Homo sapiens: one gene and its partners. The protein of the gene in region 3 purifies or fractionates together with the protein of the main gene of each other region. This does not show direct contact. Each region holds a gene or a part of one and is shown on either strand. Other genes may lie near its edges.

The links.
Region 1: the proteins of SNX24 (region 3) and SEPTIN2 fractionate together in Homo sapiens (co-fractionation; one large-scale study listed by BioGRID). This does not show direct contact.
Region 2: the proteins of SNX24 (region 3) and PACS1 purify together in Homo sapiens (affinity purification with mass spectrometry; 2 studies listed by BioGRID and IntAct, with this or other methods). This does not show direct contact.
Region 4: the proteins of SNX24 (region 3) and ZNF618 purify together in Homo sapiens (affinity purification with mass spectrometry; one large-scale study listed by BioGRID and IntAct). This does not show direct contact.

Annotation. Positions count from the first base shown.
Region 1 is NC_000002.12:241,332,904-241,336,482, forward strand, and holds part of SEPTIN2 (septin-2), read left to right. Parts: intron 1-2,222; coding exon 2,223-2,309; intron 2,310-2,418; coding exon of another isoform or gene 2,419-2,448; intron 2,449-3,055; exon of another isoform or gene 3,056-3,071; coding exon 3,072-3,195; intron 3,196-3,579.
Region 2 is NC_000011.10:66,230,751-66,234,329, forward strand, and holds part of PACS1 (phosphofurin acidic cluster sorting protein 1), read left to right. Parts: intron 1-54; coding exon 55-190; intron 191-1,421; coding exon 1,422-1,526; intron 1,527-2,209; coding exon 2,210-2,316; intron 2,317-3,034; coding exon 3,035-3,189; intron 3,190-3,381; coding exon 3,382-3,492; intron 3,493-3,579. UniProt on the Homo sapiens protein: Coat protein that is involved in the localization of trans-Golgi network (TGN) membrane proteins that contain acidic cluster sorting motifs.
Region 3 is NC_000005.10:122,995,613-122,999,112, forward strand, and holds part of SNX24 (sorting nexin-24), read left to right. Parts: intron 1-2,595; exon of another isoform or gene 2,596-2,725; intron 2,726-3,500. UniProt on the Homo sapiens protein: May be involved in several stages of intracellular trafficking.
Region 4 is NC_000009.12:113,882,788-113,886,366, forward strand, and holds part of ZNF618 (zinc finger protein 618), read left to right. Parts: intron 1-3,579. UniProt on the Homo sapiens protein: Regulates UHRF2 function as a specific 5-hydroxymethylcytosine (5hmC) reader by regulating its chromatin localization.

The sequences.
Region 1 (3,579 bases), on a different chromosome or scaffold from region 3:
GAATAAGCAAAGCTGATACATAGTGACAAAGTAGATTGGTGTTTGCCTGCGGTGGGGACTGGAGAGGGTAGACTTCACAGTTACACAAAGCAACTCTAGGGTTATGAAAATAATCTTTATCTTGAGTGGAGTTTGATTATCTGAGTATCTACTTTTGTCAAAACTGTACAGTTTAAATGGGTGTATTTTAGTATTTGTAAATCGTGCCTCAAAGTGGCTTTAAAATAAAACAGGTAGGGGGTTGAGGGTGAGTAGTGAAAAGTAAAACTAGAAAGCCACAAGAATCCTCAACTTTTAAATTGTAGTATTAATAGCTCAAGAAAAATGGGTGTATCAGGAAAACCCTAACACACCTAATTAGTAAATGAGAGACTATTGAAGAGGAAAGGCAGTTTTTAAAATTTTGTCAGACTTCTAAAGAAACAGGTAAAGGGGCATTGCACCACCGTTTATTAAAAGGATGACTTAATGGGATAACAGGCATTTAGTCAAATTTTTACACTCATATTTAGGCATGTTCAACACATTGTTTTGTTCTTTTCATGTGTGAAAATTGCAGTTCACTTAAAATGCAGTCCTAATTTTGTATGTCTGCATGTTTCTTTTTGTTTTGTTTTGTTTTTTGAGATGGAGTCTCGCTCAGTCGCCCACGCTGGAGTGCAGTGGTGCGATCTCGGCTCACTGCAAGCTCCGCCTCCCGGGTTCACGCCATTCTCCTGCCTCCCGAGTAGCTGGGACTACAGGCGCCCGCCACCACGCCCGGCTAATTTTTTGTATTTTTAGTAGAGACGGGGTTTCACCATGTTAGCCAGGATGGTCTTGAACTCCTGACCTCATGATCCGCCTGCCTCGGCCTCCCAAAGTGCTGGGATTACAGGCGTGGGCCACCGCGCCCGGCTGTGCGTCTGCACATTGCAAATTCACTTATTTGTTCTTGATTTTCCCAGAATTGTTTTATTCTGTAAGGGACAGGGTCTCACTCTGTCACCTAGGCTGAAGTGCAGTGGCATGATCATAGCCTGCTGTAATCTCTAACTCCTGGGCTCAAGCAATCCTTCTGCCCTAGCCTCCCAAGTAGCTGGGACTCTAGGTACAAGCCACAACACCTGGCTAAGGTTTTGGGGTTTTTTTTACTTTGTTTTGGTTTTTTGGGAGATGGGGGTCTCACTATTTTGCCCAGGCGGGGTCTTGAATTCTTAGCCTCAAGTGATCCTCCAGCCTTGGTCTGCTAAAGTGCTGGGATTATAGGTGTGAGCCACTATGCCCAGCCAGAAATAATTTTTCAAAAGAGATGTGTACTCCTTCCTCATGCTTTGCAGAACTTAACAGAGGGTGGTTTAGGGTACCCAGAGGACAGTCCAGCACCAGTAGTACCAAGATCAGAAGCAGTTCTCCATGCAGAATTGAGACCTAGATGATCATCTGCAATGAAGCAGTGGGATTTGTGCTTCCTTCAAATGTAAAATTTAATTTTTGGTATTTTGCATCTTTTTTGAAGTTAAATTTCAAATATTCAGAATATGTAGTCACAGTAGTTCAAGAGAGATTCTCACCTCATTGAAAGCTTACATGGATATGTGTCACCTGAATTAGTCGTGTGAACTCAACAAAGTGAGCGGGAAAGTTGCCCGACATATGACAGTTGCCAGTGCTGGGAAACGGGGATGGATTTAAAGCAGGAAGAAGACAAGGTGGCAGAAGGGGGAGGTTGCAGAGTGAGGGTGTGCATGTGAGCCCACCAGACCACAGGCCCTGTCCTGCTCACACGTTTCTGCAGCTCGGGAAGCACAAGGGTTGTTGACACTATGGGATAGATATGTTCAGTTTTCTGAAAATGTGGTGAGTTTAGTGACTAGCAGAACTGATAATTGAAAACCTGCTTTGCATTCTATTTGTCAAAAATAAAAACCAACCTCTAAAGTACATTCCTCACATTTGTGAACAGTTATGTTTCTAATTATATGATGTTCAAGTTCTGTAGTCTCATAGACCTGGATTCAAATCTTGGCCCTGCTCTGGATAGTACTCTGACCTTGGGCAAATTAGAGTTTCTTTGAGTACCCTCAAAGATCATACTGCAAACATAGTAGTACTGTAGGTACTAAACACAGAATGATGTTTGTGAGGTACTTAGCCCAGTACCAGGCCTTATGTAAACACTTAACCGATTGAATGGTGTCATATGAATAAGGTCATGACAAGGTTTTTCTTTTTATTTAAAGGTGAATCAGGTCTAGGAAAATCGACTCTCATAAACAGCCTATTCCTAACTGATCTGTACCCAGAAAGAGTCATACCTGGAGCAGCAGGTAAAAACATTCTTATGTTACTGTAAGTGTAATTCTACATGAAAGATGCTGAAGACTGCCTAATTAATATTTTATGTCTTAGCTGTGTGTTTTGTTTGTTCTTGTTCAGCTTTGAACACAAGGAAAACACTTTTATGGGGTAGGTGTGCTGCACCGAGGTCCTTGGATTTGGGTTGTAGACTTTCTTTGACACGTATCCATGGATCCATCCTCTCTTGAGTTTGTCTGTAAAATGTAATAAGTAGTTTCTGCCTATATTAAATATTTGATGGAAGGATTAAGTGAGAATGTTTTACATCAAAAATGCTGTGTAACTAGAAGATTACTAGGATAGATGTTCGAATTCATCTACTGTCAGAAAGTTCCAGCACAGGACACCAGCATCCACAAATGACTGTTGAATGAAATAGGCACACATAGTGAGAGCCTAAGACTTGGGCTGCTGCAAGAATATGTAGCCCTTTCAGAATATTTTTGAATTCAGTTTTTAAATGAATTCGTAAATTGCTTTCTTTTTCCCAGGAACAGAAATTATAATTTTTAACATTTGTGTTTTTAACCTTCCCCAGTAGCACAATAATCTTAGCTTTAACCTTCCCCTTTCTGACTTCTCTGGGATCTTTTTTTCTTAATCCCCATGGTATCTTTGGAGAACCTACCTCTGTAGAGAGGCAGTAGACTCTGAAGTCACCTGTCGTAAGAACGTGAGCTTTCCTCTTCACATGCTGCTTATATTCCCTATTAAGTTTGTTTCTTTTCTAGAAAAAATTGAAAGAACTGTCCAGATTGAGGCTTCAACTGTTGAAATTGAAGAGCGAGGGGTCAAGCTACGCCTGACAGTGGTAGATACCCCTGGCTATGGTGACGCTATCAACTGCAGAGATTGGTATGCTCCCCCATGCCCAGGGATCTGCATTTGTTTACTTAATATACTTCATAAATTTATAGATAGTGTTAATGAGTGATTATTAAGTTTGGGATTGCTGTATATAATAAAACACCTAGACAATTTAAAGCGTGTTAAATGTTGACTTTTTAAATAAGGAATTTTATAGAGAGTAATTTTTTTCTGGTACTCTACTGTAATTTGAGATCGCAAAGCCAGTCATCCATAGACTGCTAGTATAAATGAAACACCTGGATTTGAGCCGTGGTTGGTGACCGAGATACTGTAGTACATCCTTTCTATGTGGAAGGAAGTGAAACCTGTTAGAGAGTGGGTTGAGTCGTAGTGTCTGTAAATGACTGCTCATTGGCATCATTTTCACAA
Region 2 (3,579 bases), on a different chromosome or scaffold from region 3:
CAGCTTTGGGGTTGGAGGGGCTATTTCACCAGCCTTTTTCCACCTCCCTGGCAGCAAAGTGGAGGGGGTGCACACACCCCGGCAGAAGAGGAGCACGCCCCTGAAGGAGCGGCAGCTCTCCAAGCCCCTAAGTGAGAGGACCAACAGTTCCGACAGCGAGCGCTCCCCAGATCTGGGCCACAGCACGCAGGTACTTCTGGGTGCCCCCAAAACACCAGGACCCTCTGAGATTCCCTGAACTTCAGGCTCTGTTTTGTTGGCTTCCTTGGACAGTTAGTTGGAGAGAAGAGGAATACTTGGAAATGCTCTGAACAAAAACTCTTGAAGAAAGACTAAATTAGAGAGGTCTCCTATATTCCTTGCTTACTGCCAGTGTGGAACTGGCTTCCACGCTGACCTCTAGGGCGCAGGCAGGGGAGCCAAAAACGCTGTGTGGTCGTGGCCTGCCACGGCTGCGAGTGTCGATTCCACACCACCGGTGTCTCTGCCTCCATCAGACGTCAGTCTGGAGATTGTGCCGTGAATCCACTGTTGCAGAGGACAGCAGCCTCTGGATCTCATGGGACATCCTGACCCGAGCTCCCAACCTGAGTATTGCTGTGGGCGGTCATCGTGCTTTCAAGCCGGGAAGCCAACAATATTAAACTGTTTCAATGGAAGGACCCGAGAGTGGGCTGGAGAAGAAGTCAGAAGAACTGGGCCTCAGGAATCGTGTTCTCCTTTTGAAGGCCTGTGGTGTCAGAGATCTGGGACAGGGATTTTCCCGGCACACCTTACACAGTTCCAGTTCTGCTAGGGTTAAACAGCCAGCCTGTTCATTCCCCTGATAACTTACCAAGTGCATTGTCAGTGTGGCCTCCTGAGCTCCATGCTATTACATGGCTGAAAATGAACTTGAGACTAGAATAGCCCAGTGCCTGGGGTGAGGTATTGTCCTTCTTGTTAATCACTGTTCCTGAAATACCTTTTGTTCCCTCAGACAGCAGGTACCCACACAGCACTCATTGCCACTCTCATTATTTCTCTCCCCACTGCCCTCGTTTCTGTTTCTCTGAGCACCTGCTGGCCGCCCTCTGCCTCTCCCTTCCTGGTTCTTACGCTGCTGCCCCTCCTGCCACCCACACCGTTTCCCATCCGCGAGGCTTGCTGCACCTCCATCCTCTCCACCTGCCCTGGCAGGACAACCGCTGTGGCTTTGTTCCTCATCTCCATGTGTCCTCTAAGGACTCGCTTTGCTGCTTCTTTCTCCTCCTTTCCATCGTGGTCTGGCCAGTGGGAGACTGAGTCTCCCTCCCAAAGTCCTGATATCTGTTCTCTCTAACACCCCTGCTCCAGAGACTCCCCATGCACCAGTCCAGCAGCCCTGTCCTCAGGCTCCCCAGGGACTCCCTAACAAGAGACACTTTCTTTTGTTCCTGCAGATTCCAAGAAAGGTGGTGTATGACCAGCTCAATCAGATCCTGGTGTCAGATGCAGCCCTCCCAGAAAATGTCATTCTGGTGAACACCACTGACTGGCAGGGCCAGGTAAGTGCTGAAACTGCGAGGCCATGTGGGGTCCTGGAGGGCAGGCAATGCCCGGTTGCATTGTCAGTGTGGCCTCCATACTATTGCGTGGGGAGGTGGGGAACTCACCCCTCCATCAGCCCCCACCTGCTCTGAACTGAGCCCAGAACTCTGAGTTCTAGTCCAACTTCTGTCATTATCCAACTTGTGGGATCTTAAATCACTAAGTTTGCTCTACCTCAGCTTCCTCATACGTTAAAAAACAAACAAACAAAAAGCAACAGTAATTCCTCCAGGGCGCCACATGCGTCAGGCAGCATAGTGGAACGGAGGCCTGTAGAGAAGCACCCGGCTGTAACCTCCAGGGCTGCCCCATGAAGGCAGGTCAGCAAGGCAGAGCATCCCTGCCTGCTCCCTCACCGCTGTCCACCTGGCTTAGACACTGGTGCCGGGGACACCTGGAGTGTCCTAGCATGTGAAACCCCCTAAGGCTTCCCATCTCTCACACTCTGCGTGTCTCGTGGGTCGGCCCCACCCCCTCCTTACTGGCAGTCCGGAGACCTGGCTGCCTTTGCCCAGCTTCGGTCTGAACTGCAGAGGACAGGGGCCCTGCAGCTCGGTCTGGGTCTCACTTGCCTCTTGGCCCTTGTGAAGGAGTGATGTGTTCTCACCTGTGTCCCTGCTCTCCTCCCTCCCTATCCCAGTATGTGGCTGAGCTGCTCCAGGACCAGCGGAAGCCTGTGGTGTGCACCTGCTCCACCGTGGAGGTCCAGGCCGTGCTGTCCGCCCTGCTCACCCGGATCCAGCGCTAGTAAGGGCTCTGGCCTCCCTTCTCCTGCCCTTAGAGATTCCCTCTGACCTCATCTTCCAACCCTGACTTCTAAGCAATGATAGACCCTCCTGGCCTCATCAGACCAAGAATTTGCAGAGGGGCGTATGTTTAGGGGGGTGGCGGCAGCAGGCTGTAGGGCTTGAGGCCCCGGCAGACCCCAGAGGATCGGGGGTGGAAATATCAATTCCTGTGCTCCCTGCCTCCCTGCCTGGACCCCCGCCATGCCTTGACTTGCTTTATCCTCTTAAACCCATGATGAAGGAGAGGACACACTGGTTTTAAAAAGATCTTTTATTCCTTCCATCTGCAACATGCTGCTAGACACTCAGGAGTCAGTGCTTCCCCTACCCTCAGGGCCTTCTTAAAAGGCCCAAGTCCCTTGCCCTTGTGAAAGAGAACTATGGATTCCAGGCCTGGGGGCACACACCCTGCGGGCATCCCAGGCACACTGCCGAGTCCTACGTTAGCCTCAGCTGTTCCGTCTGCTTCATGGGCAATGCCCTCTGACCCTGGATTTTTCTCTTGGTTGTGAAAGCACTGTGGCTTATTCCCTGTATGATCCTCTCTGTTTTATTTTGTGGATTGGTTTGCTTTTCCCCTGTGGGTTGTTGAGATCACAGAAAGTCAGCTCTGGGCCTCCCCCGGGCAGGATCCTGGCACCCCTGAGCACTGCTATGACGCTCCCCTTCCTCCCCAGCTGCAACTGCAACTCTTCCATGCCGAGGCCAGTGAAGGTGGCTGCTGTGGGAGGCCAGAGCTACCTGAGCTCCATCCTCAGGTTCTTTGTCAAGTCCCTGGCCAACAAGACCTCCGACTGGCTTGGCTACATGCGCTTCCTCATCATCCCCCTCGGTAAAGACGGGAGGCACCAGGAGGGCGTCGGGCATGAGGGTTCCATAGACAGATGCCTCATCTGGAACAGGACGGTGGGGTTGGGGCCTAGGAAGGGACAGTCAAGGAGACCAAGGCCGTGGCCAGGGACAGCTGCTCCCACACTGTCTCATCTCCTGACGAATTCACCACCTCTGGTTTTCCATCTACCAGGTTCTCACCCTGTGGCCAAATACTTGGGGTCAGTCGACAGTAAATACAGTAGTTCCTTCCTGGATTCTGGTTGGAGAGATCTGTTCAGTCGCTCGGAGCCACCAGTGTCAGGTAATGGCCCCGTGTAAGGAGCTTACTCCCACCCCCGGGGTCCACAGGTGCCAGCCTGGCTGCAGAAGGAGGCTGAGGTCATGCTGC
Region 3 (3,500 bases):
CTTGCATCTGGGTAATTAATTCTGCCTCTCACAGTATTTCACTCTGTGTGTATACCTGTAAAATTTATTGGGATTTATTTCTAGCTTTTTGTCCAAACTTGTCATATTAATTTTGAATTCTTGATGTTTTACTGCATAAATTAGTTGACAGGCCATGTGTGCCAACTTGCATCCAGGAATGGGATGAGCAGCATCAGAACTTCACCACCAGAGTCACTGGGTAATTAAGTAGATAGCACTGGGCCTGATCCCATCGCTACCCTGCAGTTCAGAATGCCCCTCTTATAACAGGGGCAGCATGGTAGTACTTCATCAGCTGTACTCTAACCCAGCAACGATAGAGTGGAAAATCATACTTTCCTTAATGTTTTGTTAATTTTGGGAGCCCTCCACACCACTGACTGCTGCATTTTAGAATAATATATAGAAGACATGGAAATCATGAATATGAATTACTCTCTAGAATCGGTGCAGCAATAGATTTTGGTGTATTAGAAAGAATCCTTTACCACAGTAGCCTCAATGCCAAACGTTTTCAACTCAGCCCAGAGCTGAAGGCATTAATGAATTCTAATAGCAAGGCAGCATACCCTCCAGTGGGATTCTAATTGACAAAGAGATAGAAAACTGAAACAAGAAGGCCAGCGTGTCCTTTGGGGAGCTGGCACACAGCACCGGCCACAGTGCATCAGGCTCCAGGCCAAAGAAAAGTGAGCCCAGCAGTGAGTGCTATTGCCCTGTCTAAGCTAAAAGCAGGTGTTCTTGGCTGGGCTGTCAGGGGTCTGCAAACCCCCTGCCACTGAAAGCACAATTATAGATGTATGTATGTTTTCCAGCAAGCAGGATACTCAGCTTTTATCTGATACTCAAAAATATCCCTGAAATATAGAGGGCCAAGAAGCTCTGTTTGCTCGATGAACAATTATCCAAACTTCAAAATGGATAAAATAGGTTGTTGGAAATTAATACAACAACAATACTCAAAGAAAAGAGAATTAGCATCTATCCATCGCTGATTGTGTATCAGAGATTCTTGGAGACATTTAATCCTCACAATAACCTAATTTTAAGATAGAAAGAGAAAGGATTCAAACTCAGGTCTTCCTGAAAGCCCACATACTTCCTACTCCACACTGCCTCTCTAAAGAATGAAAGCGATTAACCATTGGATATTAATAAAAAATAAAGATAAGCAATCTAAAACAATAGGGAGATAGGATTTGATATTCAAAAATTTGATTTTTTAAAACTTAGGAGCTTATTGTTGAGCAAAGTTGAGAGATTTAAACCCAACTGACATTTATTCTATAGGATGACCCAGGGTACAGCTTCAAGAAGGGGTGGTTCCTTCAGAGCAAAAGCCTTTCAAGAAACTGAAGAAGTTGTAAATGGAACAGTTGTGAGGTCCAGCCTTACTGTTCAGTTTCTCATGAATATGATCATGTGTGTATGAACAAAAAGATTTAATTCCTCTTTTGTATCTCTGTACCAGTTGATGACAGTCATTTGTACATAATATATTACATTAGGTAAATTCTTCTGTATTTTACTTTGTCTCTGAAGTATTAGTTCTTTTCTCCCAAGCTTTTAAAACAGAGCTTAGGAAATATTCCTGCCCACATAACTAAATGCTTAACTAACTCTCAATGCTGCCTTCTCTAAAACTATAAATCCCAAAGTACATATTGGTCATTGTTTTATGGAAAATATTATTTGAGAATATTCGGTGAAAATTTAGCAAAGTAAATTCATGCAAATTTCTGGAGTTTTCTGTAGTGCTTTTGCCAGTATATCTTACGTAAAGCAATGTGATCATCTGTTTGGAGAACTCTGTTTGGGGAAGCTGAGCAGGATTAATTCCCGTCCCTGTGTTGCAGTGTAAATAGCTTTTTTCCTGTCTTTTGTCATTAATGATCATGCCGTAGATGTAGCCAGTGCATTGTAAGCCGATCTGTCAAGGCAAATAAACAATTCACCTTGTTAAAATTCCCTAAATCTTGCATTAATAAACCTAAGTAACCCCCTGAACACTCAAGAGATGTCTTCCTCCATACTGCGGTGATGGATGACACGTCTAAAGATCCTGGAAATTAAGTAGTTCAGGTCATTAAAAGTGTCCCACACTTGTTATTGATTTAATTTATTTTAAGAAGGTGGGGGTGGAGATAAGAATGTTATACCCTCCCCTCTTTTTTTAAATCTGAAAGCAACCACTTGTACAGATAATTAAAACTATTGCCTGGGGTAACAAGTCTGCATGTGTTACAAATTAGGCTTTATTATTCAAATAAGTATTGTATCATCCTCTTAAACAGATATCTAGAAAAAAAAACAATCATTGAAACATGTGTCATAGCCAAAATACCTCGGAGTTTTATATGTGTGATGACGCCTAGAACTTTTTGAGTTACAGGCACTGAAATAATGACCTCTGGGCACCTAAAAAATGTCCTTGAATAGGTAAAAACTGAGATGAAAGTGAAATGATTTAAGGAAATTTAATTGAAATAGTAATGAAATTATGCCTCTGGATAAAGGAGGTTTTTTTTTTCTTTTTATTTTCTGAACTTTTTATTTTTCTATTTTTATAACCAGGAGAAAGTAAACACATACACACACATGGATGGAGAGAGGGACAGAGGGATGGACGGATGAATGCATTGGTAGATGGGAAAACGCTTAGAGAGTGATACGCTATTTCGATTCTATCTCACTATATTCTAAGGCAAGTTTAAGTTGTTGTTTAGTGTGTGTGTTTACTTGTTCATTGCTAGCTTTCTTCAGCCCATGCTCCACTGGACCTGTAAGATTTATCATCATGTCCCAGTGCCTAACATAATAGATGCCCAGGAAATTATTATTTAGTGAATAAAGTATAACACCCCAATTTTTTCTTCTATCTTTTATTCCTTAAGCTTCCATGGGAATGGTGAGCTGTGTAAAGAACCGTAGCAGCCCCCAGTGGAAGTGGCTCTTTAGATGACCCCTCTCCAGGGACTGAACACCAGGAGGGTTCTGCTCTAGTGTGGGACAGAGGGCAGCCTAGGAGGACTGGCAACCTGTATAGTTACCCACTTCATTTGTATGACCTGAACTGGGTAACAGTATTACAAAACCTGATGAGGAATTGGGGCCACTCAGTATGTGAACCATGGCTAAGAACAAGATGTGATATAGAACTATGTATCTACAAGGTACATAATTTCACCTCACTTTTGTTACTTGTTATGTATCTTATGCACCACCCTTACACAGTATTCCTGATCAGTTGTGTGAGTGATATTTCACCACTGATTCTCATAGTTCTTTAAACAACATGTACTTACTGGACAAAATTTACCCATGATAAGTTATGAAAAATGACCCTTAAGAATAGTTGTATTGAAGTCAGAGATTATGATAAAACCTTTGATGCTTTTCTCCTGTGGTCTTTTAGAAGAGGGGGAGGGGGAGGGGGAGGTGGCAAACTTATATTCAGTTCACACACTCTGGTAGACTTT
Region 4 (3,579 bases), on a different chromosome or scaffold from region 3:
GCCCTTGCCTCTGGTGCCCCTTCCCTCATTCATATCTGCTTCGTGAGAAACCAGACCCTCCTCGAGATCAGCTGCACTTCTTCTTCTGTAGAGCTCCCCCAACAAATTTCCCCAGGTAGGCTTCCTCTCCCTCTGCCCCCATGGTACCTCCCAAACAATGTGGACCCACAGGTCAGAGTTGGTTGTTTGCATTTCTGCTTCTCCAGCCAACTTGTAACATCTGTGAGGGTAGAGATCACCGGTTATTCATTTTAGGGTCTGGCGCAGAGCAGCAGCTCCATAAATATTTGATGACTTCATTTGATTTTTGGAAATAGCTCAGATCAGTGGGCTTTGGGTCTAGTGAAGAGTGGATGACCAATTTGGGCTTGGCCATTTGGTCAAAGCCAATGTTTTATTAGGGAGCCCGAGGCACATTTTCTTACAGCTGGCTCTGAAGCCATGGCTCCCCTGGAATAATAAGTCCAACAGGGATCCTTAGTTGGGGAAATGCTCCTTTACATGTCTTGGGGGATTTTTAAAATGTTCGTCTGATGACTTTCACCCCTGCCCTCCTCACTCCTTTTGTATAAAGTATTTCTTTAAAGTGGATGGGGGACCCCCAGATGCCTGATTTGCAGGTATGGTGAATGGGGCATAGCAGTGCCCTGTATTTATGCCTGGTCTTCTTAGCCAGGTGTCCTGGAACTGAACACCAGGGGCCTGTTTGCAGAATATCCAGGCACACGGGCTCCTTCAACTTGAAGCACCTAAATGTGTGATGTGACCCCATTTTTGGTTGAATTTTGGTTTGCAGATGTCAAAGATTCAAGGAAAATTTATGGGAGAAAACAGAACCTTCTGTTTCTTGGCTTAGTTTTTTTCAGCACGTTTTATAAAATGCTGTCATTTTTAACACTTTGTGGCCAATTTCAGCAAGCAAGCATAGAATCCTAAGTTAAGGTAGACATCGATCCTCAGTGTTCATATTCCCACGTTTCCATATTTCTGAAATCAGGATGCCCCTTACAGTAGATTTGTTCTTCTAGTGAACTTTTTCTCCCTCTTATTTCTTCTCCAAAAGCTGTTATAAAATCGATGGTGCATCTATCAGTTGAAAGCATCTTGGGATTGAGTGTTGTTGTCCTCCTGGTGGGGAGGACTATGACCTGTGGGGGCTCCATGCTCTGTTTACCTCACTTTTCTCTGGGCTTGGCCCCCCCCCCCCCCCCCCCCGCCCTGTACAGTGAAGGCAGGACTTCACCTTGGGAAGAAACATCTGGAACTCTGACTTAGTCCTACTTTCCTGCCATGTCTGTGTGTAGGTTTTGTAATTTTGCTGTGGCCTCTCTAAAAGGGGCAAGTAGCCCGTGGGAGGGAGGTGAAGTCCTGTAAATGGGGGAGGGGGGTCTCTTCAGTACAGCCACATGCATGAGCTGGCCCGACAACAGCGGAGCACCAGTTTGACATTTCCAAGGGTAGAATGAGCAGAGCATAGTCGGAGAGCCAAGGCACGGCTCCCCTCTCTGCTCCACCAGTTAATCATTTTGTGGTGTTTGCCAAAGTACTTCATTTCCTTGCACCGTATTTTCCTTACCTGTAAAGGTGAGATGATAATATATTGATGATGATGATTGAAGATGATGATGCATAGGGTTCTTGTGAAAGTTGTGAGAGATGTAAGAAAAAAGTTTTGTAAAGGGCAAAGTTCTTTTCACTTGCAGCATGTTATTTGTGCATCATCTAGTCCAAGGATGGTAAATAAGTAGCATACATGCTGCCATTCCCCATCCTCTAGCCTGTGGCAGACATCACTAATTGACCATGGTAGTCCTTTCCATTGAGTATGGCCAGCGGCCTCAGAGTCCTTAGTATTATATAATGCTACCCATCAGTTGGGCTTAGATGGGACATGAAGCCAGTTTGTCCTTCCTTATCGACACACACACACACGCACCCCATGGGACATGAAGCCAGTTTTTCCTTCCTTATCGAGACACAAACACACAGAGAGAGAGAGAGAGAGAGAGAGAGAGAGAGAGAGAGACAGAGAAACTGAGGCCTTGGGAAGAAGGTGGAGTGACTTACCCAAGACCTCAGTGAACAAGCGGAAGTGGGACTAAAAGCCTCAGATTTCTTCACTCCTCAACCAGTGCTTTTCCTGCCCTGTGTGTATACACTGTATCAAAAGGAATTAAAATTAATTTGGTCTTGAGAAATAGCGAGAGAATCCTGACTCCTCCCTTCCCTGTTATAATTAGATACCCTTGGGGTTGTCATCAAAGCAGGGCTGGATGACCTGCTTCTCTGCCTGATCCTGGAGTGATCAGGTTTCAAAGGGGAGACGCCTGTGGCTAGGCAGCTGGATTGGATGGTGTCTCTCAGCAGTGTAAGTGACGTGGCAGTGGGGCAAGGCAGGCCCTGGGGTTCCTGGATGATGACCTGGGTTTGGGACAGGTTTGCTGCTTACACACTTTCAAGTCCACAGACAAGTTCTTTAGTCCTTCCGTATCTTAATTTCTGCATCTGAGAAATGGGCTGGTAATGATTCTTCACAGGAATGACATAAGATAACAAGTTTGAAAATGCTTTGTAAACTCTTGACATACATGTTACTTTTTAAATACACGTTACTTTTTATAACTAGTACGAATTATTAGTGCTATGCTGGGTAAGTTGTGTAAACTGAGTCACAGACTAAGGGCCACAAGATGAGTGGGTCCCTTCTCTTGTATGTTATTTTATCTTTTTGCCAGCCCAGGGTTCAGAAAGTTTGGAGTTTGTGAGTCTTTCACAGATTCTTTCCTGTTTGCATCTGTCCCCAGCCTCATCCTGTTTCAATCATGTATGTGGCCTGCCTAGCCCTGGAAGGCCTTGGGGTCTGGGACCCCGACACAGCCTCTACTTGTTCATCTGTTTAGTGGGAGGACAGGCCATCCTTAAACCCTTCCAGGCTTTTTGAAAGCATCGTATGAGTTAATGGACTAGAAAGTGCTTCATGAACAGCAAAGAACTGGAGAAACATGTTGGCGACAACTCCTTTCTTAAAAAGGAAAGGAGGAAGGCTGAGGTGAGGATGGTATTGAGTCGACAAAAAAGTGATATAAATATTTTGGCTGACAAAGCAGAATGAGGCTTTCTATATAAGCTAAAGCGAATAAATGGAGTCAGGTGATGCTTGGCCCCCCAGTCTGCTATAGAAAACACAGGGAAAAACATTGCTTTCTAGTGAAGTGAGCCCTTTGTCAGGGGTGAATCTTTGATTACCAGGGGTCAGCCCTGTTCCTGGGTGAGGACCCAGGGAGGAATGAAACCTGGTGTCTCCCCCAGGGGTGGAAATGGCTCCTGCAAAGTGGAGGAGGCCTGAGTATCTCTTGGCAAGTCCCTGGCTCGCAGTTTGCTGGTAGCACTCAAAGTCAAAAGTGCTTTTGGCTTGCTTACTGGATGTGTTACTGTCCAAGACAGCATATCTGAGGAGCTAGCCATTCTTACCTCTCAGCTTTGAGCCTGTGCCATACAAATTCCTGCCTGTCCCAACATTTTTGTGGAAAATTGGGGGACTAAGGGTGGGAATTTTTGTCAGGTGAAAGTTTGCAGAGA